7 separate regions of the Homo sapiens genome follow, and all the other regions are linked to region 1. The links come from fine-mapping of genetic effects on plasma protein levels. A gene starts in region 1. Each other region holds a variant in brackets. All regions are shown on one strand. Distances are from middle to middle. Region 1 holds the start of ROBO1 (roundabout guidance receptor 1). Region 2 overlaps ROBO1 (roundabout guidance receptor 1). Region 3 holds the start of MIR3923 (microRNA 3923). Region 4 overlaps ROBO1 (roundabout guidance receptor 1). Region 5 overlaps ROBO1 (roundabout guidance receptor 1). Region 6 overlaps ROBO1 (roundabout guidance receptor 1). Region 7 overlaps ROBO1 (roundabout guidance receptor 1).

Evidence for each region. PIP is the chance, under the fine-mapping model, that this variant and not a neighbour inherited with it causes the effect. Protein levels are from antibody-based Olink assays in UK Biobank. Linkage for the fine-mapping came from a reference panel and not from the study's own genotypes, which makes the PIPs less certain.
Region 2: its variant is fine-mapped to the plasma level of the ROBO1 protein (UK Biobank, PIP above 0.99).
Region 3: its variant is fine-mapped to the plasma level of the ROBO1 protein (UK Biobank, PIP 0.95).
Region 4: its variant is fine-mapped to the plasma level of the ROBO1 protein (UK Biobank, PIP 0.95).
Region 5: its variant is fine-mapped to the plasma level of the ROBO1 protein (UK Biobank, PIP above 0.99).
Region 6: its variant is fine-mapped to the plasma level of the ROBO1 protein (UK Biobank, PIP above 0.99).
Region 7: its variant is fine-mapped to the plasma level of the ROBO1 protein (UK Biobank, PIP above 0.99).

The regions. Positions count from the first base shown.
Region 1 is chr3:79,765,906-79,769,975 of GRCh38, reverse strand. ROBO1 (roundabout guidance receptor 1) reads left to right here and starts at 1,978. Exons shown (of 31, transcript NM_002941.4): 1 at 1,978-2,224.
Region 2 is chr3:79,017,434-79,021,503 of GRCh38, reverse strand. The region is part of intron 3 of ROBO1 (roundabout guidance receptor 1); the gene reads left to right. Among named protein-coding and RNA genes, the nearest start is that of MIR3923, 490 kb to the left of the region's middle. The variant A/G (reference allele first, on the strand shown) is at 1,719.
Region 3 is chr3:79,504,645-79,508,714 of GRCh38, reverse strand. The region is part of intron 2 of ROBO1 (roundabout guidance receptor 1); the gene reads left to right. MIR3923 (microRNA 3923) reads right to left here and starts at 828; the gene lies at 746-828. The variant C/T (reference allele first, on the strand shown) is at 1,696.
Region 4 is chr3:79,297,430-79,301,499 of GRCh38, reverse strand. The region is part of intron 2 of ROBO1 (roundabout guidance receptor 1); the gene reads left to right. Among named protein-coding and RNA genes, the nearest start is that of MIR3923, 210 kb to the left of the region's middle. The variant T/G (reference allele first, on the strand shown) is at 1,605.
Region 5 is chr3:79,010,241-79,014,310 of GRCh38, reverse strand. The region is part of intron 3 of ROBO1 (roundabout guidance receptor 1); the gene reads left to right. Among named protein-coding and RNA genes, the nearest start is that of MIR3923, 500 kb to the left of the region's middle. The variant A/C (reference allele first, on the strand shown) is at 2,241.
Region 6 is chr3:79,427,589-79,431,658 of GRCh38, reverse strand. All of the region lies in intron 2 of ROBO1 (roundabout guidance receptor 1), which reads left to right. It overlaps LOC101927374 (a long non-coding RNA gene), which reads right to left. Exons shown (of 3, transcript NR_110133.1): 2 at 2,924-3,051. Among named protein-coding and RNA genes, the nearest start is that of MIR3923, 78 kb to the left of the region's middle. The variant C/T (reference allele first, on the strand shown) is at 2,213.
Region 7 is chr3:78,736,124-78,740,193 of GRCh38, reverse strand. The region is part of intron 5 of ROBO1 (roundabout guidance receptor 1); the gene reads left to right. Among named protein-coding and RNA genes, the nearest start is that of LINC02077, 690 kb to the right of the region's middle. The variant C/A (reference allele first, on the strand shown) is at 2,044.

The sequences.
Region 1 (4,070 bases):
AGAAAGAAGTTGAAACACCAATAATTTACTTGTTTTAGAAATAAGATGAATGTCAGTCATCTTTATTCAACTTTGCATGGTCATTATGCTTTTCTTACTATATGAAATAATAGCTTTTCTTTTCTTTTACAGATTAAAAAAAAGTCCTTTATACCCTTATACTGAATATTGCAACACTTTGGTATTTTCATTTTAACTCTATTGTAAATGGAGAAATTATTAACCTGAAGTAAAGTGATTGAAGTAACCCTGAATAAAAGTTATTCAAAAGCTATTTCAGTGACACAATAGCAATGGATATATACAGCAAATTGACTCTGATACAATGCCAATGATCACATCTTTTCACTCTGAATTAGTGATCATGGATATTTTTAAAAATATGTGTTTGGTGCAAACTTTGCAAATACACATAAAAATACTGGATTTTCTAATCCCTGAAAGAAACTCTCTTCTTTCACCTCTCAGTCGTGTAAGAGTTAACTCTGTTTCCTACAAGGATGCAATCTGTAAGTTAGGTCTGGAAGGCAGCAAAGGCAACCTGGACTTGAAGTTAACACTTCTGTTGTCAAGGGTTACTGATTGGGGGAAGGGAAGGGGCTGTAAAGGGAAAGAGTTACGGAAATGAAGAGGGATTGTAGCACACACTACATAAATTCAAATGCTTTACATGTATTTGGAATAAGATCTCGAGTCTGTTGTATTTTTGCATTGTGTTTTCATTTATTTAGTTTACACATAGGTAGTGAATTTATAGGTTGGTTGATGTTAACCTTATCCAGAGTGGCCCTTTCCAACAATGTTCATTCAGTTGTACATTACATATATGTAATAATTTTGTAATTAAATTGGAATTTATCACAATTATTTACATCAAAGACAATAAAATTATGTTACTTCCTAAATTATAATATCAGTAAATATCGTATCTAGGATTTTGTGGAAAGTCTATGTCATTTTAGTTTAAATAAGGATTTCTCTTTTCCTCCACAAAATTAAAGGTCAAAGAAAACAGCATGTTTAAGACTTCAAATTAATATATATTAAGATTCAGCATTTAATATTCTAATTCTTAAAATAACTGGCTTTACCGATGATGAACTAAAGTGATTTTGCACACTATTACAATATTTCAAATTGCTAGTCACCACAGGTCGGCCTCACTTTAAATCTCCTTGTTATGCCAATTTGCATTACTAATGAACTTGCTAAGAGAGAAACTGTAAAAAGATAATGTAGCAATTAATAGTAAATGCTTGACATACTGTGACATTATAATACCTTTATGTTGATTTATATCTTTATGTCAATATTTACAAGGAAAATATTTTTGAATTTCTAATTTTGCGAAGTAAAAATGATGCTGACGCCATTGTCATTGATGGAATTTTTTCTGTAGCATTTGACTAATATAACCCGTGTTTTATAATTGGTAGACTCATATTTTAGCTTCTACTATCTACTACCCATGTAAGGTATTTTATTTGTAGTAGCTATGAATTGTAAATACAATTGGGTGTTGTGTGTACCTACGTGAAGTGCAGAAGTATTTGATTATATAAAATTTCCTGGATTTATATGAGAATAATGCATAATAGAGAGCAAAAGAGGGTTTTCCTGCCAAAAGTGTCTGTGTGAATTTTCCTTCGAAAATGTTCTTTTAAAATCCTTTGTATGATCAAAGCCACTCCACACAGACAATTAAAAGCAGCTATGGAATGATAGATCACATGACAGGAGTTAAATGTAAGGGTTTTTTTTTTTTTTTTTCCTCCCCCCTCGGTTAAACATCGCAGCAGGCATTACAATACCAGAGGTAACGAATCAATTAAATCCATTTTCCCCTCGGCGTCTCCAAAGCTGCGTGCCTAGTGTTGCTGTGTAGTTTAGACCGGAGCAGTAGGACCCAGGGGCCTCCGCAGCCACCAATAGAAGCGCACACTTGGACCTATTTGTATGCAATGCCTTCTGCTCTGCGCATTAATAGTAATACAGATAACGGGTTTGAAAGAATTCTCTACTGAAGAAGGATTGAATTTTTCCAGGGTGCTGATACAGAGAAGAAACCCGACTTCACTCTCTCCCTATTTCCCCACTCTTAGGTTTAAAAGTCTGTCACCTTTCGCTTGGTTTAAACTCGGAAAGGTCTCAGTGCACAGCAAAGTTGCAGGGCTGCGTCTGCACTACGGAGCCTCTAGATTGCTGAAAACAGTCTTATGGAAGGGTAAGTCTCGGAAATGGTTGCAAGGGAAGTGACAGCTGGCTTTTGATTTGTAAAAGGGGACACGCTGGGTTTTACACTAGTGGTTGTTGGAGTGCAGAATGGTTGCCGAGAGGACTCTGCAGTTTATCCAGAAATTGTGGCTGATGCGCCAGGGTGTTTTGGGGTAGAATCAAAAACCTTCAGGCTAAATCGGAAATTGCAGCCTTGCGATCGGGAGGGATTCAACAAGTTTTCCTGCAGGGATGCGATGTTTGTTTCTTCCTTGCCAGTTGTGCAGAGTGTCCGTTCCAGGTAGGCTGCGGCTGCTTAACAAAGAAGTTTTGGAATTTGTTTGTTGTGTGTGTGGCTGGGCTAACCCTTGTTGGAGTAGGTTTCGTGCCGCTTTTGGCTTCTTGGGGGCACACAGCGGAATTTGCTCTAGGGATGCGGCGAGCATCAGCGGTGTAGTGGGCTGGGGCCGGGCAACTTTGCAGCCTAATCTCAGTGCCGCTGACCGCACCGTTGTTCGTGATGTGAGCTGACTGAGGCATAGACACGGGCAGGCTGCAGGGAGCTTCCAAACTTTGAAAGCATTCTCCAGGAATGGATGCGCGTGGGGGCTTTGAAAATAAGCGTTACTAGGTGGATTTTGGTAAACTCTTGGCGGTATGTAGGCAGTGGGGACTTTTGACACTTGCATTTCCAACCTGCAGGATTTTGCTTGAAAACATGGTGCTGATGTGAAGACGAGAGCTTAAAGCTAAGCCAGCGGGGACTTTGAGGGAGGAAATGAGGGAGGGAAGGAGGAAGAATGAGAGAAGACAGATGAATGAAAAAGGTGCGTCCCATCTTTCACACACAAAAACCACACGAGTGGGACGAACCAGGAAGCGCTCCAGTTGGTGGCGTTTAGCTGGAAAACGTATTGCAGGGAGGTCCAGGAGCCTCTGCATTATTGATGAAACGCCGTGCCCTTCTGGGGCCCCTTCTTGCTCCTTCTCCCTGCCCCATCTTGCCAGCCCCGCTTCCATGAGCCTTCGGTTCCAGCGTTGGCGCGGGTGCGGCTGCGCGCGCGGCTGGGTCCCACAGCTCTGAGAACACAATGGGGAGAAGCAGGCGAGCCCTGCGGGCGGCCGATGCGGAAAACTCGGCGTGGCAACCCCACTGCTGCAGCCTGGGCTGCCGCTCCACCCGGGGCAGCGGCGCTGCAGAGACGGCTTCTGCCCAGTTGCCACGCGCCCTGAGGTCTCGGAGGACCGCGTGGAGGGCGCTCACACCTGGCCGCTAAAATCCTGGGATACCCTTCTAGGAGTCACTGTGTCCCACGCAGATGGGTGGGGTGGGGGAGACGGAATGCTAAGACATCCCACTCCTGCCTCGAGTCGGAGCTCCCACTACTCAAATATCCTTAGTGTGCACCCCAAGCATCTAGAGGACCTGCGCCCCCAAGAAAAAAGGACACGAAGGGGGAAAGAAGGGAAATGTTGATGAGGCTGCAAGAGGGGAAGGAAAACAAGCAATTTAGGGCAATTATGGTCAATGGTCAGGCTTTTCTGGGCTCTTTTAAGTGGATTGATTTAGAGGAGCTTTGAAATGCTGTCCCTGGCCTGTCTGCGGCACTAAAGGGGGCAGATTTCCAGACGCAGGAACTCACTGGAGGCTCCTTCTATAGATGAAGGGAGGAAAGGGCAGGGCAGGAGGCTCATTTCACAGGGTAGTTTAACCCTGACCTCAGCACCTCCCACCCTTTCACGCCCCGCCAAGGAGTGCCCCGACCTTGTAAACTCCTCTGTGTCATCTGCCCTGTGTAAGTGATTTTCATCAAGCTGTGTGTTACAGAGGCCTGTTAAGAGATGGTTGTCTGTTT
Region 2 (4,070 bases), 750 kb after region 1:
ATTTGGGGGAACAATGCAATAGGGATCCTTACACATATTCTTCATTATATTTAAAAGTATACCCCCATTACTAAGTGAAAGTTTGACATCTTTATTTAACGTACATTCAAATGATATGAGGATTTGAATTTTCTCTCTATCTTGCTCTCTTTCTCTCAAGTACTACACTTTAGTGTTTGTTTTCTATTACTAGGTAAGCTTCTCTTAAAAGTATTTTGTATTCCAAGAAAAAAGAGATATATTCTATGTTTTTCACTAAATATCCTTTAGCAAGACCAAATCGATGTATGCTTTTCAGCTTTGACTGCCCATTCATATTTTTACTGCTGAAAAGATTTTGGTTGGAGTCTTTGAATTCTTATCTCCAGGCTGTTTACTGAATTTATAGTCAGTTTTCTCAGGATTAGACTATCTTTCACTTTCAAAGATAGGTGCTGTTAACCAGAGTTTCCACAAAATGTCGCTCTAAGGTCGTTGGTTGCACCAGCAGCAACCAAAATCAATGTACAATTTGCTTTTAAATTTTTATCTTCCATTAGGTAATGAATGTGCTCACCTGAAAAGACATGGAAAAGCACAACACTATGTAGAAAAGAGCAAATCCTCCTTCTCTGCCCTATCCATTGCGCAGTTCTGTCCTCCAGAGGCAACCACCGAAAGCAGCTTCTTACATGTACTGCTAGACACCAAATAATTTTTTTTGAAGTTATGGTACACAACTCTGTAGATATTAATTCTGCCATTTATTCAGCATTCGGCATGTTAGGTATTTCACATAGTGTGTCTTTTTATTTATTTATTTATTTATTTAAGACGGAGTCTCGCTCTGTCGCCCAGGCTGGAGTGCAGTGGCAAGTTATCTCGGCTCACTGCAACCTCCGCCTCCTGGGCTCAAGCAATTCTTCTGTCTTAGCCTCCCGAGCAGCTGGGGCTACAGGCGAACGCCACCACGCCCGGCTAATTTTTGAATTTTTAGTAGAGACGGGGTTTCACCATATTGGTCAGGCTGGTCTCGAACTCCAGACCTTAAATGATCCGCCCGCTTGGGCCTCCCAAAGTGCTGAGATTACAGGTGTGAGCCACAGCGCCTGGCCACTGTGTCCTATTTAAAAGAAAGAAAGAAAAATGACTGACTCAATGAATGAATGCCTTTCAGACGTGTCAGGTTTGTTTTGCTTTGTGTATTTTTTGTTAATGCAATAAAATATCTCGAGAACAGAAACAGAGAAGAGAAAACAGACCTGGTCACAGAGCTATAACTGGCAGGTTGGGATTTCAGGGCGGGTATACTGAGTGTCAAACCTATGCCTGACTAGCTTCTCCTAACTGCAAACTCTGGGCTTGTCAAGATTGTTTTTTGCATTTGTTTCTCTCTCTCTTAAAATTACATCCCCATTGTTAGCTTTCTAATGTGTGGAGTATGAAGTTGAAAGAGAGAGTTTCAACTGAAACATGAGGAAATGATCCCAAGGCCCAACCCTGTGCCTTATGATTTGGATATCTTTTCTACAAGACCTTCAACAACTGCAACTTAAAAGAAAAGGATGGTTGTAAGAGACTGCCCATCTACTGATATGTTCTGGATAGTTCTCTGTTTACCTCCTGTCCTAAAGCCATGTTGCTCAAAATTGATTTTTTTTTTTTAAATGGGAATGGGGAGAAGTGAGAGTGGAGTTGAGAGTTTATTCCAATTCCTGGAAGCGGCAAGGAAGAGGTTA[A/G]GTTGGACCAGGAGGATTTTTGAAGTCTTTGGCTGGGAGGTTCCATTTGGAGAAAGGTGCAGGGGAGCTAGGGGTGGCGAGAGAAACAAGACAGTTTCTCATTCGCCTGGATTTCCGATTCCGAGCAATTGGATTCTCACCTGAGGGCGCAGTTGGGCACCCCTGGCTTGTGGATGGAAATATTGAGGAGCAGAACTTGCCTGACCAGCGCCTGGAGAATAGAGTGAAGCATGGAAAGGACCACGCGGCCCCTTTAAGTATTATCGGGCCGGGGAGGAGAGGGAGGGAACTGGGAGCCGCGGGGACTGTGGGGGAAACCCACAAGCAATTGAGCTGGAGAGGAGGCAGCGTGAGAGCAGAAACTTCAGACGCCGCTGATCCGGGAGGAGCTGGGGTGAGCCGCGGCGGCCGTCTCTCCCACCCGCAGCAGCATCCTCTCTGCCCTTCTCTGCCACCCCGGGGAGAGCCGGGAGCTGCCTCTTTACAGCTTCCACGAGCCAGGGGTGCAGGCAGCTGCCCCCAGGAAGTTTGGGCTTCTGCGTAGTTTAGGGGTGCCTGCGAGCGCCCCAGAGGGCGAGGGGCCGAGGGCGATGTTGGGCGCCGCGCGGGGCTGGGGGCGCCCAGAAGACGTGCGAGTGTCCGCGGTCCTGCTGCTGTCTCCAGTACCCTCCGCATCCCCCAAGTGATGGGAACAAGGGCCCGCCCAGGCAGCCGCTGTCGCCGCACCGCCCCCTCGCTCGCTCTCTGCGCGCGGAGTCACCCAGTCACACTCCCGGCACCCCGAGCCCTTCCTCCGGAGCTGCTGCTTCTACTTTGGCTGCTATCGCCGCCGCCGCGGGTGGCCCGCTGCTGACTGGGCTCGCCGGGAGACGGAGAAGCACTTTTTGGCCCTCCCTCAGCAGCTCTCACACCCCAACTTTGCCGCCGCCGCCGCGCCTGCCCTCGCAGCGGCGCTCGGCCGCACATTGTGGGGGCGCACGCCGGGAGGCTCCGCAAGACCGTGGAGGCAGGAAACGGCACTACTGCGCTTCTGCCTCGGCTCTTTGTTGTTCGCTTTGGATGGTTCTTGAAAGTGTCTGAGCCTCCTCGGAAATCCTGGGGCCGGAGAAGACAAACCTTGGAATTCTTCCTCTGCAAAAGTCTCTGAGATACTGACAAGCGTCCGGAAAGGTCGACGAGTAATTGCCCTGAAAACTCTTGGCTAATTGACCCACGTTGCTTATATTAAGCCTTTGTGTGTGGTGTGTGGCTTCATACATTTGGGGACCCTATTTCCACTCCCTCCTCTTGGCATGAGACTGTATACAGGATCCACCCGAGGACAATGATTGCGGAGCCCGCTCACTTTTACCTGTTTGGATTAATATGTCTCTGTTCAGGTAACCCCGCGTCTTCTTTCTTCACCCTTGATCCTCCCTGTTCGCCCCCTCTCCACTTTGCACGATCAAACCCAGAAGTGTATTTTGGTTACCCCTCCCTCCTAAGGCCGGAGGGGCTCGATTCCTGCTAGACTTTTAGGCGAAAATGTTCCTAGTTCGCATTTGGGGTTGTCTCTTTTTCCCCACTCCCCAAAACCTCCCCTCCACCCCTGAACCTCCTCAAGACTCTTTGCAGATCTCGGCCTTTTGCCAAGTTCAGGGCACGCCCAGATTACTCTGGGCAAACGCACGTCTAAGCACTAGGGTGGGAGGAGGCAGCGGCTGGCAGTGAGCTAGGGCCCCCAGGATGAGCCGAAGTGAGTATCAGCCGCCGGCTGCTTCCCTGGGGAGGGAAATGTGCGCCCTGGGAGCTTGTGGCCCGCAGGCTTGCCAGGATTCCTGAGCCTAGTCCTCTCTAGCCCCTCCTCTTCCGAGCACAAGGGGTTATTAGTAGTTGTTTTATGTAACCAAAGTCTGTAATTAAATTTGATTCTGAAGAAGCTTCACGAAATAACTCCTTCTTAAGGTAGGATATAAAATAGCCACTGCCTCGCTGGGTTTAGAAGGAAAACAGGCGGTTGCAAGCATCGGAAAGGGGAGTTGCCTGGGGATTCTCATTGGCGAAAGAAAACTGAATTTGGGATGTTTAGGATTAATTAAATAATACTGAAATTCCATATGAAGTGTTGGAAGGATGCTGAAACGGGGCCCTTCTGACATAAGAGTACACACTGTATCTACACTTGTAAATAGTTTTCATACACTCCCTAGGAAACTTTTTTACTGTGGGTGAACTGAGCCACGACTCAACTTCTGTTTCTTTCCTTTTGGTAGATTCTGGTTTCAATCACGGATCCGATTTCAGGCTTTAAAACACACACACACACACACACACACACACACACACACACACACACTGCACCTCGGAATTTTT
Region 3 (4,070 bases), 260 kb after region 1:
TCTCAGAGATAATTAGAAAACGGATGCCAGATCCTGCATTCTGTTTTACAATACTAACACAAATTTTAATCAAACGTAATTTCTGAGAATTCCTTTTTGGGGGAATGAAAAGCCATAAGGTTTTTGGTGGAAATTGCTTTTATTTAAGCAATAAAAAAGTGTTAATGAAATTGCTTGCATTCTATTGAGCAATGGTAGTTCAAAGATCTTTGTTACTGAGTGTATTAGTTTGCTAGGTCTGCCATAACAAAGCACCACAGATTGAGGGTTTTAAGCCAAAGAAATTTGTTTTCTTACAATTTTCGAGGCTAGAAGTTTGAGATCAACGTTTAGGCAGGATTGGTTTCTTCTCTGGCCTCACTGTTTGGTTTGTAGATAGCTATCTTCTTCCATGGGTTTTCACATGGTCTTCCTTTTGTGTTTGCCTCTGTCCTAATCTCCTCTTCTTTTTGATTTTTATTATTATACTTTAAGTTCTAGGGTACATGTGCACAACGTGCAGGTTTGTTACATAGGTGTACATGTGCCACGTTGGTTTGCTGTACCCATCAACTCGTCATTTACATTAGGTATTTGTCCTAATGCTATTCCTCCCCAAGCTCCCCACCCCCCAACAGGCCCCAGTGTGTGATGTTCCCCTCCCTGTGTCCATGTGTTCTCATCGTTCAACTCCCACTTATGAATGAGAACATGCATTGTTTGGTTTCCTGTCCTTGTGATATTTTGCTGATATTTTGCTGAGAATAGTAGAGTGAGCCCTAATCCAACATTACTAGTTTCCTCTTCTTATAAAGAAGCTAGTAATATTGGATTAGAGCTCACTCTACCAGACTTATATTAGCCTAATTATCTCTTTCAACACCTGATACCCAAACACAGTAATATTCTGAGGTTCCGAATATTAGGACTTCAACATATGAATTTTGAAGGGACCATTCAGCCCACAAAATCATGGATACCTTCCTGAATGTTGCTAAATGTTATATTGTGAAGAAAAATTAAAGCCTGGTGAGTCCATGACACCGCCAGCATATACCACAGAAACACACCCATGTTGTTTCCAAGTAAAATGTGGATATACACAGACTTGCAAAATTAGAAAATTAAGAGATCAATTATTCTTTATGATGAACAATACAATAAAATGGCAAAGTGCATAGAAGGACCACCAAAAACCTCTTCTACACTTCTCATTCCCAAAACAAAGGAAAGCATGCTTGGAAAGATTACTGAAAGGCTCTGAAGAACCTCCACAAAAAATTTGCATCCTCTTGATATGGCCTTTTGTTGTAGTAAGTTGCAGTACTGCTCTTCAGCTATTTCAATAGAGAGGAAAGTCAGTGAACAAAAACCCCTGCCCCCATTTATTTCTAATGGTCCCGATAGTTTGTGTATACCGGGGACTCACATAGAGTTGTTCTCAGAGTGTGTAGACACCTTGGTAGGCATTTATTTGTGGTCTACATTTTTATCAAAGAACCCTCTTCGTAGCTGTCCTATTAGGTCACAAGGGATGTAGTTCTTGTTTTGTACATCATCATGCTCCTCACTCTCCTGCTTTTAATAAACCGGCTAATGTGCTCTAAGCATTATAATAGGAATCATGATCTATCATCAGGTTTGATCCCCTTATGTAAAACAGTGCCAGGGCTCAAGAGGAGCTCTATTATGTATGTTGATTGATTGGGCAACTGA[C/T]ACTTCCAGAATCTAGGTGATGTGGCTGCATAAAGCACTGGCAGTGTGTTGTAACCTGACACAAATTGCCTTCCAGTAACCTCCTATGAACTCTGTAATCTTTCCATTGGGGTTTGGATATTTGGTTAATGGATAACAAATTCACACTCTTTCCTACTTGCCAGTTTAAACCTTTCACATACCTAATATGTAAGTTGCACATATGCTTTTATGACACTTGAAACTCAACATACTTAACACCAAATTCATCCACTTGTTTTAAAAATTGCTTTGTCTCAGCCGGGCACAGTGACTCACGCCTGTAATCCCAGCACTTTGGGAGGCCAAGGCGGGTGGATCACGAGGTCAGGAGATCGAGACCATCCTGGCCAACATGGTGAAACCCTGTCTCTACTAAAAGTACAAAAATTAGCTGGGCGTGGTGGTGCATGCCTGTAGTCCCAGCTATGCAGGAGGCTGAGGCAGGAGAATTACTTGAACCCGGGAGGTGGAGGTTGCAGAGAGCCGAGATCCTTCCAGCCTGGCAACAGAGTGAGACTCCATCTCAAAAAAAAAAAATTGCTTCATCTCATTGTTTTTCTATTTCTTTTCTTTGAAACTTACTGTTGGCATCTGATGAGTAACTTTTTCTGTTCCTACTTCAATAAACAGATAAATTCTAATTATTTGTCATTTCATTATCTCTTACTTCTATTCACCCCGTTGCTGGTTAGGCATCTTACGATTTGACATTCATATCCTTAAAAATCTTCTAATTGATATTGCTGCCTCCACTTACTATCTATTTCAGTTATTCCTCACTGCTACGAAAGGCTTTTTTTGTAAAGCATATTTCTCATCATAAAATCTCAAAACACTTGCCATATTAAAAATAATTAATATAATAATAATAAATAAATAAACCTGTGATCTCTCTTTCAATTTAATAAAATGCAGATTCTTTATTCATTCAGATAAGATGTTGTCTAGGTGTATTTCCAGTCCAGGCTTAACATTAACCCTCTTAATATAGTTAGTATTTTGGTTTACTTCAGTTAGTTGCTCTTCCACAAATGCCACTGATAGGATCATCCCTCTGTGCATCTACATACACTGTGGTCATGGCCTGTAATTCTCCCTTACCCATGTCTATCATACCCATCATTCAAAGCATACCTCACCTATTAATTCTTCCCTGAAGCTAAATCTTAAAATTACAACTGTAATAACTTCACTGCTCTGTAAACCTACCACTGTATACATTGCTTGCAACAGTCTACCTTATGTTATCATTATTTGTCTGCCTGTATTACCTACCCTACAAGACAGTAATCTACGTTTGCTCTTCATCTTTATTGTCCTTCTTACACCTCGTCTGTAGTGGAGAGACTGTCAAGCCAATGATCGTTACTGCAAAGTATTGTAAGCTTTCCCTGGTATTAGGCAGCCATGTCCTCTTTCTCTCCAAATCATTGGTTTTCAGATGCTAAAATAGACTCCTCTCTTCTTCTCTCTCAGCATGGTCCTTAAATCAGGAAAAAGTTCATCCTGCCTGCTGAGCTTTGGAGAACATATACCTTGCTTTCCTGAACTCTGACAGCATGACATTTAGTTTTAGACTTCTGCTTTGTTCGATCTAAGCTGTGTCTTTCTTATATCATTGTCGCAATTTGGCAATTTACAAGAGATGAAATCTCTTTCTCTTTCTCTCTCTATCCTTCCTCAACCTGCTTCCTCTTACTTTTCTTTGTCTCTTTTTTTTTCTTCGCTGGAAGACTGAAAATGGTCTGAACAGAAGTAGAAAGTCAATTTAAGAAAAAAAAAATATATAGAAAGAAGTTTAATAAATTAAAATGTCTTTGTTTAGAGCTGAATTCTTCAGTTAATGCTGTCTTCCAATGCGGCAAATTCACACCAGTTTCACCTCCATGATAAATTATACAGGAATTCATTTTAATATAAGTAAGAACATAATTGTTAAGGGATTGAATATTCAAAAAGTTTTTTTTTTTCAGGGAGGTATTCTTAGCATCTATAAAGTATTTTAAGAGCTGCAAAATGGGATATACCTTCTATTACAATCATATAACTATTTGCCTTATTGAATGAAGAAAATTATGCCAGAACTTCAGATGCTCTACTAAGTATCTCCGCATACATACACACACACACAGACACACATAGAAAGATACACACACATATGCCCAACTATGGCTTCTCCTTTTTGTGAAACATTATGTATTACTGGTAAAATTGTTGCAGTTATGGATATCTGCCTGTTAACTAGGCAGTAAGAAAAAAATCAAACAAATTGGGGAGATAGCATGAAATACAAAATTTGCATTTTCCATTCCAATACACTAAAGTAATTAAGAGATAAGTATTAGTTCAAATTA
Region 4 (4,070 bases), 470 kb after region 1:
GAATTTCAAATTGTTACAAATAAGGGGCATTGCTTAACATAAAGGAATTACTTAAAGGAAAGAATGAGCATATGTCTTTTCATAGGAGGTGGTCTGTAAAACACACAGTTTATAAATTGAAAATCTATATACTCAGTCACATTTCACAGTACTGTGTGCGGAATTGGTGGGTTCTTGGTCTCACTGACTTCAAGAAAGAAGTCGCGGACTCTCGCGGTCAGCTCTTAAGGTGGCGCTCTGGAGTTTGTTCTTTCTGATGTTCGGATGTTTGCGGAGTTTTTTTCTTCTGGTGGGTTCGTGGTCTCGCTGGCTCAGGAGTGAAGCTGCAGACCTTTGCGATGAGTGTTAAAGCTCATAAAAGCAGCGTGGACCCAAAGAGTGAGCAGTAGCAACATTTATTGCAAAGAGCGAAAGAACAAAGCTTCCACAGCGTGGAAGGTGACCCGAGAGGGTTGCCACTGCTGGCTCGGGCAGCCTGCTTTTATTCACTTATCTGGCCCCACCCACATCTTGCTGATTGGTAGAGCCCAGTGGTGTGTTTTGACAGGGCGCTGATTGGTGCGTTTACAATCCCTGAGCTAGACACAAAGGTTCTCCACCTCCCCAACAGATTAGCTAGATACAGAGTGTGACATAAAGGTTCTCCAAGGCCCCACCTGAGTAGCTACAGAGTGTCGATTGGTGCATTCACAAACCCTGAGCTAGACACAGGGTGCTGATTGGTGTGTTTACAAACCTTGAGCTAGATACAGAGTGCCGATTGGTGTATTTACAATCCCTGAGCTAGACATAAAGGTTCTCCACCTCCCCACCAGACTCAGGAGCCCAGCTGGCTTCACCCAGTGGATCCCACCGGCTGCAGGTGGAGCTGCCTGCCAGTCCCACTGCAGTGCGCCTGCACGCCCCAGCCCTTGGGTGGTCGATGGGACTGGGCGCCATGGAGCGGGGGTCAGCGCTCAGTGGGGAGGCTGGGGCCGCACAGGAGCCCACGGAGGGGGTGGGAGGCTCAGGCATGGCGGGCTGCAGGTCCCGAGCCCTGCCCCGCGGGAAGGCAGCTAACGCCCAGTGAGAAATCGAGCGCAGCGCCGGTGGGCCGGCACTGCTGGGGGACCCAGTACACGCTCCGCAGCTGCTGGCCTGGGTGCTAAGCCCCTCATTGCCTGGGGCCGGCAGGGCCGGCGGGCTGCTCCAAGTGCAGGACCCGCCAAGCCCACGCCCACCCGGAACTCCAGCTGGCCCGCAAGCGCCGAGCGCAGCCGCAGTTCCCGCTCACGCCTCTCCCCCCACACCTCCCTGCTAGCTGAGGGAGCCGGCTCGGCCTTGGCCAGCCCAGGAAGGGGCTCCCACACTGCAGCGGTGGGCTGAGGGGCTCCTCAAGTGCCGCCAAAGTGGGAGCCCAGGCAGAGGAGATGCCCAGAGCGAGCGAGGGCTGAGGGCTGCCAGCACGCTGTCACCTCTCAGTACTACATATTCTTGGTAAGGCATTTATCTCATTTCAAAATGAAATATTTATTTAATATTTCAGGTATTAAATAAGTATTTCACAGGTATTACTTTGATTCTATTTCCTTTTTTATATCGTTAATATTCTGAAAGTTTGAATA[T/G]CTTTAAGAGAATTTAGTAGACTTTCTGGAGCCAATTTTTTTTTTTTTTAGTGTTTCTTGAGTTGATATTTAAAACAACTTTTCATTTTCATTCCTTGGTTAATTAACTACACTTCACTATTTTTATTTTCAATTCTAAACTCTCCCTTCAACTTTTCGATGGATTTCATTGAATTGGAAAGATTTCATCAACACACGCTTTAAAAAGTCTTGTTTTCTCATAAATTATCTCAATTAAAAATTATTATTTTATCTCAGGCAGAATATTTCCTCCAAAATGAATATATTATTGGCAAACACTTTATATAATATCTTTATTTTCAAATCTCATATCAAGCAAGCAACGTTAATAGTATTAATTGTTAACATTTATTAGTACATCTGCAAGAGCATATATTACAGCATGCATAGCTTATTTATATAATAAACGAAAATGACACTAGCCACCTTCAACATTTGTCAGGAATTCAGTCAAGTTGCTGACTTGACTTTGAATATCTTCATAGTTCCCAATAAGCCACATGTTAATCCCTTTCCTGGTGAAGAATTTGGAGACCAGAGATTTAATTTACTGAACATTACACTCTAGTTAATGTTGCAGCCAGGATTCAAACTATGTCTGTATAACCCCAAAGCTCATGCTCTTTTCTCTAAATTTTATTTTTAGAAATTATTTGAAATACTGGTCTATGCTAAATGCGATGTAAACTTCAATATACCTCATGTTAGGCATTTTTCATGATAAAAAGAATACAACTATGTTACCTCAAATGACCTTCCATGTTGTCATCATGCACAGAAATAGAAGGTTCAATTGTGCCAAAAAAGTATTTAGCTTTTTTGGAAGTGTGTATTTATTATATTTGTTTGATTTAAACATAGAAGTATTCTCAATACAATGATCTCAAAGGAACTGTTCATATCCTATGCAACCATTAAATTTTCATTATATTAAATGTGTTTGAAATCTTTGTAGTATGCAGACATTTTGGCAGTGACAGGATTTAACCTGTAATTTTCTCCTTCAAAAAAGTTGAAAATGGAAAATAATGAACTCCTTCCTAGATTACTCAATTAGTAAATTCCTTCAGTAATATAAATAAAATCCAAATTATTTTTCTAGTTATTAAAAATAATTGAGTATCTGTTTACATGAAGAACTTGTACTTGTAATATCTTAATTTTAAATTATTTAAAACTTGGTTTTTCTACTTTGCACCCATTAAAATAAACCCAAAACAACTTTATGGACTGGTGAATTTACAACTGTTTTAAAAGAAGTTTCAGGATAATCTGGCATTCTGTTTCAGAACATCCCCAAAATAAGAAAAAGAAATTCTATCCCTATGTTAAAGTAATATTTCATTACTAGTTGCTAAAAAGAATGGTTCAGTCTTTTCAAAGGGACCATAAAATAGAGAAACAGACAGCAAGGACTACTGAAAAAATCTGACTTCTTAAACCCTGCCTCCTGAGGGGAGGCATATTATCATCTATAATGTATTTGATCCCTCACAAGCTCACCAGGGTTACAGACCATTTTTAAAAAGAAAAAAAAATGCAGTAAAGAGTGTACAATGAGCTACGTGGAGGAGGAGAGAAACGTACCTTTAAACCCAAAGACTTTTTGTTCGTATGTTGCCAATCAATCATGCCCGCTGGCCTGGTTATAGATTGCTCTTCATAATCTGTTTTCACAAGATCCTAAGAGAATTCTAACCATAAAAGAACCTGCCTCTCTCTACCCAGAGGTATATAAAAGAAACTGATATTTTTTTTTAAATCCATATCACAAAAATATATAGTCAATTCATTATCACTTTGAGAATAGTATTTCTCTATTTCACTAATTCCTGATCAAATTATTTCACATATAGTGAAACATTAAAGTCCCAGACATTGAACTTTCTCTTTAGAAAAGAGAAACTCCTTTGCTTGGGCTTTCAAAAGAGTGTATCACTTTAATGATCTTCATTGCTAGTTGCATTCCATGACAACATGATGCTATATTACATAGATTTGAATTTCAGAGGTGATATGGTAAAGTTGTACCTCCAGAATAGTATTTATTAAAAGAAAATCCTAGCAGTTGGCTTATTAGAATACTGTTAGACATCTTCCCATCTAACAATATAGTAGTGACATGATCTCACCATATTTCAATAAAAGAAATATGTCAGAATATTTAGAACAATTTCTTTTTACAGTTTGGAGAAATGGTATTTTGTTTACACGAAGCATCCATTTTTCATTTCTTTCTTCCCATGGGAGCTAACATAAATCAAAACAACTCAAATGTTTTTAATTTCAGAGTGAGATCAGCAGCTGTTCCCCAGAACTCCAGTTGCTGCAAAAGAGGGAGTTTTTGTGTGAGTCACAAGTCAGATAGACAATGTAGCAAGATCTGGTTACATACCATGATACTTACTGAGCATATGCCCACTAGAGATCATAATAACAAAGAAT
Region 5 (4,070 bases), 760 kb after region 1:
AGTAGTAGAGATGGGTTTTCACTGTGTTGGCCAGGCTGGTCTCAAACTCCTGACCTCAGGTGATCTGCCTGCTTCGGCCTCCCAAAGTGCTGGGATTACAGGGATGAACCAGTGTGCCCGGTCCAAAAAGTGGATTTCTGAAAATATGATGTCAGTGTATATTCTCTTAAATTCAACAACTATATAAAGAACTAGATAGTTTGCAGTTTTAAAACAACAAAAAAAGCAATTTGAAGCATGTTTAACTCTTTCATGAATCAATTGAACAGTTTTTTTTTAAGCTACATATGATAAGACTTTAGAATATTGACTGCCTCAATGTATATAGAAGACTGATACACCAAGTAGTTACCTTCTGTATGGTAACGCTTTTGCTTAAAGGAGACCAGTAAAGTGAAAGAAGGAAATAATTAAAAGATGAGATGGAGTTCCAACTCTAGGTGCAATAAGAAACTTCATGAAAATGGCTACTTTTACTGTGAAGCTAGGACTATCACTTTACTAAACACTCACCATTATCTTATTTAATGCTCATAAAAATCCTATGACATATATGCTGTTATTTCTAAGATATTACTGTGCCCTGATTTTACTGTTGTAGAAACTATATCATAGAGAAGTTAGGGAATGTGGTTCAGCAGGGATTTGAACCAAGCTGGCTCTAAAACTCTCAACTACTGTGCATTTTCCTAGTCGAAAGAGAGAAATGAAGAATTTAAATAAAAAAGATTATGGTTCAATCACTTTTTATTTTAAAACTTGTCTCAGAAAAAATCCACTTAAATGAAACTGTGGTTTGAACACTTGAGAATTTGGAAGGAAGGCATTATTCTTCCTGTCATTAAGAAAATGGTCTCTAATTTTTAGATCACCAGGCAAGACAGTCAGTTCTTTACATCATCTAACCAGTTCACATTGAGCCTTGATTATATCTGCATTTTCTGGCATGCTTAAAAGAGGAGACTGAATGTGATTCAAAACATTGTCTGCTGGTGATGCAGATGCACGTGGCTTTCGAGTTGTATTTTGGAAAATGAATGGCATTGTTCTTCTTGCACACTGGAGGAAAGATTTTGCTCTGCTCTGAATCCCAAGGCAAGTAATTGGTACTCCTCACTGAAGAGCCTGTGGAGAGACAATCATTTCCCCTGTGGTTGCTCTTAGGCTCTGGGTTGAGTATGGGCTGGTGATCATTTAGTAGATGAGCCTTCTGCTTGACTGCTGTTCACAGATAACTCACTTCATGGTTACTGATCATGGAAGGGTTGAGCCTTAATACCTGGTTGATCAGCTGGTTGGAAACTGCTTATGCATAGCCAATAAAGTTGCCATCCTGTGGAGATCAAAAGGCTACCTCCATTCTTTACAATTCTTGATTAGCATGATTTCCTTTCCCCTTCTCCCTCCACTTTCAGCCCCTTCCTTCAATCTTGCTGTTGAAGAAGAGGAAGAAAAAAAGATGATCTGTAGTGTACAGGGAGATAGCTTTGATCTCCACTGCTTTGCTTTTTCCTCTCTCTTTTTTAACCATCCAAAAGGCTATTTCTAACACCGAAAGGTGTCATGTTGCTTGCTTCATGGGAGAGCTCAGCCTCATTTCCCTTCAGCCAAAACAGGCTGCTACAAATCCTCTTACTTCTGTGATTTTACTTGGCTTCCAAATGTCTTATGACAGTGTTATTCCACACATAAAATAATATTTTGAACAGCATGACTGTGCATATCTTTCTGACTTTATTCAAAGAGAGAAGTACCTCTGTGGCGTTCACAGCTGTCCATGGCTTAGAGCCGGAAAATAATATTCTGTTTATTTTGTTTAATTAATTCATATTATTTTGAGGGGAAAGTGGATAGAAGGTAAGCAATTGTAGAAAATGTTCTAGGGTCACAAGATGAGACTAAATAGTCTATCTGGGCTTAATGCTTGTCACCTAGTTTGACACTTAAATGAAGCGTTAAAAGCACCATCAAAGGATACAAGCAAATGTCAACAGAGCAGTGTGGTTCTGTGTTAAGTGGGAATATAGTCTTTTTGTGTCAAGTGATTGCTTTGTATGCAGCATATAGGAAATAGTCGGTTTTGGTTCCTAATAATACAGTATTTTGGGGATCTATTTTTCAAATCATGTTAGTCTTTCAGTTAAGTAGAGCAAGGTTTACTAGAAAACATTTTTAAGCTACTTCTGGCAATAACAGCTCACAGTTAAAACACTTTCTCAAGATGCTCTTGGTTAGATTTC[A/C]GAAAGTATCAAGTTCAAAGTATGTCTAAATTCAACTCATGTGTACAGGACCTGAGAGCTGGGGACAGCTTGTCCACAGTCAGCCATGAAAGGAGCGTGGAGTCCTCAAAGCTCTCCTCTAAGATTATTTGCAGTGTTCTGCTTGAAACACAGTTCGTATGCCCAGTTTGTATAGAAAGTAAAAGAGCAAAAAAAATTGTTATGTATGACTAGTAAGTTCTTGAAAAGCCATTTCAGGTATATGTTATCTCTTGATTTAACTTACAATTTCAATGAGCATAACAAGATAGTATTCATATGACATAAAAGTCTTTGGATCATGTTAGGTATGGTCATAATTTATGCAACATTATGAAAACATATATATAATATATTATGAAAAACATATATATTTATATATAAATATATATAAAACATTATGAAAAAAATATATATAAAACACCAACTTGCTAAGTTCATTCCTGGGTTTTGGTAGAAGGCTAGATTTTAGCTTCTCTGCACTAACGTGATTGAAGCCCTTTTATGTTATTAGCAATTTCAGGTAGAGTAGGAAAAGAACATGAAGCCAAAGAATGAATGAATCAGGTCACAAATGTCTGTTTCAATATCATTTGGCAACACAGTGCTAATGAGATACACTAAGTCTCATAATTTGATCTCCAACTTAACTTGCCTGCTGTTACATTTTCTTGTTTAGCACGTGATTTTCTTTTTTCACTAATGGTGGACTTTTAATTTGGCTAAAGAAATATATCTATCTGCAATTCCTTTCCTATACAAGAACATGTCCGCTTTTTAGTTGCATAGCTCTAAAGCTGATTTTGTATACTTAGGCTTTATTGAAAAGGAAGCCTGTCACTCTGAAACTTCACTAAAATTGTCCTTGCTCATACAACAAAGTGAGTTAAAGTACCTTTGTATGTGTTAACTACACATACCTCTGGGTAGCTTTCAACTTCTTTAGTTGCTTGGTTTGGGAAGTAATTTCAGTATATCCAGACCGTTCCATTAGCAAGTTGTCTGAGTAAAGTAAACCATCTTGTACAGGCTGTGGAAAATAAAACTCATCTGTTCATTTCCCTTGTATCTGAAGAGAAGTGAAAATTTCCTAGCAATCTGGTAGAACGACCACTTTCTAAAATGAATGAATTTAGTAATATATTTCCAAAATCTAAATCTGTAGAAGAAAAACTGGGGAGACGTAAAGCTTTCATTCAGATATCTATGCAAATAGGAGGGGCATTCACTGACAAGATCATTGCTATTAATCTCCATGAATTCAGATTGAACACAAGCATCCTAAGAACAGCTTTGATTTAAATTCAGTAGGGTGATGAAGAAAAAGAAACTCATTGTGGTATTTGATCTTTTCTCCTGTCATAGGTCATTGAATCTTAAGAGCTCATTGCTTTTTAGGAGTCTATATGTAGATATAGATAAATAAATATATGTGTTTACATGATGAAAAAACCCAAGTGACTTATTAAATGATGATCGATGTAGTAGTATAGGCCCAGTTGTATACACGGAACCTGAAACACTAGGAATCAATAATATCTCTAATAATAATGGTAATACTGATAATGCCTAAAAGTTACAGAGTGTTGTTATCTGCTTGACAAAGTGCTAACATGCCTTATCTTATTTAATACTTAAAACAATCATATTAGAAATGAATGTGTTGTTATTAGCCCTGTCTGTCAGTATGAAAAATGAGGTTCAACAAGTTAAGCTCTTTAACTATGGCCAGTCAAAGTAGTAGAGTGAGGACATAAAAGTAGCCTGTCTCATCTCAGAATTCTTGCTTTTCACAATTCTACAAACACACTA
Region 6 (4,070 bases), 340 kb after region 1:
TCTTTGCAAATAAGTACATATGTGAAATAATCCTGATTACATTGCCTAGTAAATGATTTGTACTTTTTTTCTGTACCATGTTTTTGTCTTCTGAATCTGTCTAATTTCCACCTTTTATTCTCTTTTGAAAAGTCTGCATTACCATGGTATCGCAGTCAGGGATAACCGGAGAAAACAGAAGATACTAGTGTTATTTTAGGGGAAAGGGATGGTATACATGGAATACAGTACTTTACAAACTTGCTGGAGGGACTGCAGCCAAGAAACTTGGGGGACCACTTGCACGGTGGGAATGAAGATCACCACTGTAGTTGGTATATACATCCCAAAGTCTCATTTGGTTATAATGGGATTATAATGGGATTATAACCAAATAAGTTATTGATGGGATTTTCAGTTTCCATTTTGGGAAACAGCATGAAGACATTTGTATATGATACTAGTTGTAGTACATTAGGAAACTGGTGCTCTGTCTCTAACGCAACTGGCCCTCATGCCAAGTTGCTGGTGACAAGACACTGACATATGCAGTACAGGGGTCAGCCAACACTGATCTCTACTCTGTTTTTGTAATACCCACAACAGCAGAATAATAACCACTACCTCCTTTTGCCCTTCAAAGTTCATGCAATTACACCTACCTGGCAGAACCTATTCATATCCAGAACTTTCATGTAAACATCCATTTACATCCTACTACAAATACTTATACTTCCAAATACAACAATAACAATAAAAATTTGGTCCAGTCTAACATAATGCACTAAATCATACACAATGTCTTCATTCTCTTCCCAAAAATGGAAATTCAAAATCCCATCAATAACTTATTTGATTATAATCTCATTTTAACTGAATAAGACATTGGGATGTATTCAAGCTTTTCTCATTCAGTTGCAATCCCAATTTGTCATTCTGTAAAATCTTCAAAAAATGTAGAGAACAGGAACAAGAGGAAAAATGGAAATTGGTTACTATACACAAATACATTCAAGGCCAAGAAAGGAAAAAACTATGGGACTCTACAGCCTTTCATTTCTGCAACCATTCACTAAGTTGTGATTCTTTTGTACAACTCTAGCATTCCTTCTGTGCTCCTTTTGTTCCCAATTAGCACTTCAGCTATTTGGGGCTTTCTATATGGTAGGGTGGCCCAACCGTTCATTTCTTAGGGGTCTAATCAATTGAGAGAAACATCATTTTCTCAAAAATGAAATCAATTTAAGTTTAAAAAGTGGCTATAGTCCTTCAGGACTTCCAAAGAATTTTTGATTTGTTTACTCATTTGTTGGCATAGGTTGTCTGCATCCTTATAAATGTTTGAAATTAAATTATATTGAGTTGGACAAATTAAACATGAATTAAGCAGAGTAAAGTATTATTTTTATTGAACTTAATTTCTGAAAATTTACGAATTATAAATATTGCTTACACTTACATGTTTAAGATATTTCAAAAGACCAGTTTTTGTAACTTGCATGGCCTATAGTACCTTAACAAGTTGATTTAGTTAAAGTCTTTAATTTTTATTTATTTTGTAAAATTATAAAACATTTTCAATCCTTAAAAATTATAATCATCAATTTTAAAATTGTATCATAAATGTTAGACTATGGCTAAATTTGAAAACCAAATACAATAAAAAAGTTAAAAAAGGAGAGAGAGAAAAGTTAGTTGGAAAGAAGAAGGTATAACAATTCAGACAATTTATAATAGCAAATATGAGAGCATCTATTGTATAATAATAATAATCAGACATATCTTATATTTAAGAAGAAAAAATAAAATAAGAACCAATTAAATCAAAAGACTGCTCTATAGTTTGCTACTTGCTTGTAAACAGAATTTTCAAATAAAAAGGTAAAGAAACTAATGGGCATTATTCAATAAGAAGACTTAATTGGTGGGATATGGAGTAGCCAGTTCAAAGACGTGTCAGACATAAAAATTGATTGTCTTTGGATTACTACTACAACAAAATTATCTGGCTTCAAACCTGAATAGCTTAAGAATTTAGAGCCAACAGGGTGTTTCTTCACTTGCTGCCAGGAGCTTTCTTGTTTAGCTCAGTGCCAGTTAATCAGGTTGTTTGTTTGTTTATTTTGTTTTTTGTCCCTTCACTCCACTGAACTGATTCCTGTTAATAACTCTATAACCTGGATTAGGCTTTGCGTGTTTGTGGGCCCATCCTCATGAGTTGTATTTGCTGACC[C/T]GGAACCTGAGTGTGAGAGAGGGTCAGACTTTGAGCAAAACTGAAGACTTGTGGACCCTGGATCTTGAATATTTACTTCCACGTTTTCCTGGCTTTACGGTCCAGCTCAAAAAGCAACATCTCAGGAATACCCATGAACTTTGTGGATGTAACTGGATTCTGACATAATGCTTTAGGATGAACCAGCAACTCCAATCATAGCTTAAGTTTTGTTCAAAGGAGTGTATGTATGGCCCTTGGAGGGTAACTTGTTCGTATTTTCACATATTCCTCCATAGTGACTTGATATGCACGTATTTCTAGTTTCATCTTTCAAGTCAGGTTATCTAGATACAATTTACATACAGTAAAAGTTACTCTTTATAGCTGTACATTTCTATGAATTTTAGAAAATACATAAAGTGATGTAACCACCACCATAATTAAGACACGTAATATTTCCGTCATCCCCAAAGGTTCCTTTATGTCCCTTTGTAGTCCATTCTCCTAGCAAACTTTGATCAGGTTTCTGTTCTTATAACTTGGCCTTTTCTAAAACATCATATCAATTACATTTTTCAATCAGTAGCTTTTTCTTTCTGATTTTTTTTTTCACTTAACATAGAGTATTTGAAATCCATCCATGGTGTTGCATGTATGAATATTTATTTCTTAAAATTATTTTTTAATATTCCACTGTATGTTGGTACCACAATTTTCTCATCTACTCACCATTCGGTGGACAATTGGTTGTTACCAGGTGGAGGTGATTATGAATAAAGCTGATATAAACACTCTTCATGTGGGCATGTGTTTTCCTTTTCTCTTGGGTAAAACTTCTAAGAGCAGAATTGCTGAGTCTATGATAACAAATAAGGAAACTTCATAAGAAACTGGTACATTGTTTTAGTATGCTGGCTTTAGCATTTTGCATTCCCGCTAAAAATATACCAGAGAATATACTGCCAAATAATAATGAGGATGATAACAATGGGTGCAATAATTGAAATGATAACTATATTGTTGAGAATCTTTTCAGCACCTCCCATGTCACAGGCACTGTGCTAAGCACTCAACATATTTTTAATTTATTGTATTATCAAAAGAATGCATAAGGTAGATGCTAACACTAGAATCTCCATTTTATTTATTTTTATACATTTTATTAATATTTCTTTTTAATTTTTGTGGGTACATAGTAGGTGTGTATAAGTTACATGAGATATTTTGATACCTCTATTGGTATCTCTGATACCTCTATTGGACACCTTTTTATATACCTGTTTGCCACTTATATGTCTTTTTTGATAAATGGCTATTTAGATATTTTGCCCATTTTTTAATCAGATTATTAGATGCTTTCCTATAGAGTTGTTTGAGCTCCTTATAAATTCCTCATATATTCTGGTTATTAATCCCTTATCAGATGAGTAGTTTGCAAATATTTTCTCTCATTCTATGGGTTGTCTTTTCATTTTGTTGCTTGTTTCCTCTGCTGTGCAGAAGCTTTTTAACTTCATATGATCCCATTTGTCCATTTTTGCTTGGTTGCCCGTGATCATGGGGTATTACTCAAGAAATCTTTGCCCAGTCCAATGTCCTGGGGAGTTTCCCCATTGTTTTCTTTTAGTAGTTTCATAGTTTGAAGTGTTAAATTTAAATGTTTAATCCATTTTGATGTGATTTTTGTATGTGGTGAGAGATACCAGTCTAGTTTCATTCTTATGCATACGGAAATCCAGTTTTCCCAACACCACTTATTGAAGAGACTGTCCTGTCCCCGATGTATGTTCTTGGCACCTTTGTCAAAAATGAGTTCACTGTAGATGTATGGAGTTATTTCAGGGTTCTCTATTCTGTTCCACTGGTCTATGTCTGA
Region 7 (4,070 bases), 1.0 Mb after region 1:
TGAAGAAGGTGAAGAAGAAGGAGATGATGATGATGATGATAATAGTAAGCACTTATTATAGCACTTGCTGTGTGCCAGGTCCTATTACAAGCACTTTATGTATATTCACCCATTTAATCCTGCCAACAATCTTGTCAGTTACATACTAAAAATTCTGCTAATGCAGTCACTACATCTAAATTGGCTGGTTAGGGAAGAGAGGGCAACCAAGGGGGCACTTGCATTTTTTTGACTCATAACATTTTTTATAGGGTCCTATAGATTCTGCAACATATATAACAACTCTGCTATGCTATCAGTGCAAATTTTGACTCAGGATGACAGTATCTCTTAGTTTCCATTATGAAGTACTGTTTTTAATGTTCAATGATTTGGAGAGATTAGTTCACAGAATGGAAGTTGTGGTGGTCTTGAAACCGGGGTTTGGCATGTTCAAGAACTAGTCCATATTATGTTCAGTATTGAAATCTATAACATAACAAAGGTTTTTAAATTTGAAAAATTGAGTAGTTTTTTAAAAGATGACACAGAAATGGTCAAATTTGGCCAAATATTATAGCTCAGACAACCTAAAATTATTTATTCTGAAGACTAGAAGTCTTACCTAAAAAGATAGTAGAGGTTATCTAAAGAAAACAATTAACTGTCATCATTTGCCACTTAGGAAAAGAAGGATTTATGTTGAAAAGGATATTATAAATCAGTAAGTTATTCAACTGAATATGCTTTGTAGTTATCAGTCCAAATTGTGAGTTAGCCAGGTTCTAATATCATTAGCTGCACACATTTCAAAAGTTATTGTTGAAAAAAGTAAGCAATTATGAGATATTATATAACAAATGAAAAATTGAGTTAAGTAAAATATTATTAATGTAGTGACTGGGGAATTTTGTATAGATATAATAAAATACAGTAAAAACTAACACATTAGCAACACAGTATAAATATTAAGCTCTGCCTAGACTCAATTCTGAAATTTCAAAAATATTTTCTTCATGATAACCTTTGTCGATCATTTATCCCGAATTATTTCATTTTATTAAGAAGAAGAGCTTAAAAGACACTCATCTTTTCATGCTTCAAATTCTGAGCTGATATGAGCCTTTGTGACTTAAGCATTTTTGAATGACTTATATTATTCCTTGAGATAAGTTATGCTGAGTTGTTTATTCTTCTTCCTACTGTCCTTACAGTAGCATGCCACAAATATTCTCTATGTCTACAACTGTTTTTACTTGATTGAAAAAATAATTTAGATGATGGGGAAAGAATTTGTTTGTAAGATATTTATTTTCATCAAAGCTGTTATCCAATCAGTAACTATTTTTTTCATTTCATCTACTTATTGCATAGCTGAATTAAGATTTTATCCATTCTTCTTTGCAAAAGGTAGAAAAAAAATTTACAGCATCAGTATGCTTTAGCATAATGAACAAGTATATTTAGTAGTTTTTTCTTAAGATTTTTACCTTACCTAGGAAAACCAACCATTCTGGTTTGCCCAGGATGGTCCTGGTGTTAGAAATGAGAATTCTATTCCCAGGAAATCTCTCAGGTCTGGGAAAATGGGGACAGTTGGTCACTGTAATCCTAGATGGTTTAAACGAATTGTTTTGTGTATGAGTGATAGTGAATAACAAATCACATTTATATAAGGTAAGTAAAAAATAGCTAAAATATATAGAAGGGTTTTATCTGTATCATTTCTTTCAAAAGCAAGTTAAAGTTTTGAAAATCCATAATGAAGATAGGAGAACAATTTAGTTATGCAGTAAAAAACAAAACAAAACCAATAAACCAAAAATAACTATTTAACGCTTCCCATTCCCATGCTGACGAGGTAAAATTATTAGAATGGAGTATGTCATCAGGTCTTTTCCTAGTCCTTTTCTGCTTCCTGTGTGTCTTTGTAGGTTTCTTTGATTTCCATTGTTGGTGTGATATTTTGGTAAAAAGCAGCTGACTCACATCCCATCCAAATCCCCAGTGCCCTTCAGATCCTTCACAAATTTGGCATTCAGCCCACTCCTTGCCAATTGCTTC[C/A]TTTCCTCCCAATTCCCACATGTCTCCTTCCTACGCCATCTGCTTCTCCTCCCTTCCTTCGATTAGTGCTTTCGTCTGCTCTTCCAATTTCTTTCATTGTTCAATGTCTTTTGCTTCCTCTTCCCCTCCTCTCCCCTAGAGGAAATTAACATACTTAATACAGCTGATGTCATAAAGCCCCTTTTCCCTAAGAAGTTAAATTTCTGTTTCTGCAAAATAAATACATAGCTCTGTTGTGTGAAGGTCAAAGGAAACCTGAGTAGTAAACCTGAAATAGATTTTTTTGGGGTTCATCTTACATAAAGTGTCAATGCATATTATGTATTCTATTTATTTTCCAAAATAAATTTTCTATTTGGGATTTAAATATGGTAAGTCAACACAACTTTATTGTACCAGTCATTGGATTGAATAAATGACTTAAAAATAATTTTTCCTGTCTATCTTAATTTTTATATTTAATAATTGAAACACTGGGGATTAGTAGAACAAAGCATAGGCTTGGGCATTATAAGACCACATTATAATTTCAGGTTTCAACACCTATTAAATGCCTGATCTTATGGAAGACATTTGATCTCTATACATTTCATTGTTTCCATCTGTGAAATGAATTGTCTAATCATACCTAGATTAGTTCAGTGTGTCGTTGAGGGAATTCAGCGAGAAAATGCATGTTAAATGTCATTGTAAATGGTGACACACTTAATACCTATTAGTAATGGTGTTCTCTTTATTATTGTTGTTAGTATACCTATTTGAACTCTGAATATATTTAGTCATCTAAATCTTGATGGAAAAGGAAAATCCAAAACTACTCATGCCATAACAATTCCAATTTTCTTCAAGAAGCAAGAAGATGATATAAATGTATGTGAACGAAGATCCAGCTTTCTATCTCCTCTGCCTGTACTTCTATCTATATCTGATTCACCACTGTGAGAATTTTCAGTTGCCACAGAATCACTAGGGGTATTTTGGGTGAACATTATGAGTAAGTAAAGTGTTTAGACTAACACTGAAATTAAGAAACTGATTCAAGTTCTATGTGTACCTTTATTGGGCAATGCTATCATCAACTGGTTATTCCACAGGAGAATTCTGTCCTAATGCCCTAAAGGTACCCACCATGTGTAATGAATCAACTTCTTTCCCATGCATCGAGAACAGTTCTAGTTACGTATTATCCTTAGGGGAATTGAGAAATTATGTGATTCAGATGCAAAGTACTGGTTAAGAAAGGCTGGTTTCTCTTCTCAAGGAACATCCTGAAACTTTCCACACACTTGCAATTTTATTTAAATAATTACACATACACTTATCATGTTTGGACCCTGAAACTAGAAAAAAGAAAGCCAAGCATTTTACACCTACCTGTGAAGTCCAAGCACTCTTTTGAAAGGATTGCAGTAAACTAAAGCATTCTCAGTTCTGGCACACAAATTAGTTTAGATGACAATACAATTAAAAAGATAATTTCAGTGAGCATTGGGTTCTTGCTCTGTCTTTTCACTATTCATATGTTACATGTGCATTTGAAAGCTTGCATGCCAACAGCTTGGTATACCGATATATGAGAGTCTTGGCATGTGGTTTTCTATCTGTAATGTTCTGTTCTTCTACCCACTTTGTCTAACACACTCATTTTTCAGATCTCAAAGACAACTTCCTCAGAGGAGCCATCAGCAAAATCCCACCCAAATACCCACACTAGATTTCTTCTTCCTGTTATCTGTTTGTTTTCCTTTTACCAAGTACTTCTCTTATAATCTATTCTAAATTATGATTTATATATTACTTATCTAATACACATAAAACATATGAAAGTCCACCTGTATTCCTCATGTCTGTCTTATGTTCGAAGCTCATGTGTTCGAAAAAGTGTTAAATGAATGAAATATAAGTCAGAAATTTAGTCTTTTAGGGTACTCAGGAATGAAAAGTTGCTAATTTGAATATATATGATTTTGTTAATTTTATTTCCACATACAATTACGTATTTCTTATCTTACTCTCCGACAAAATGG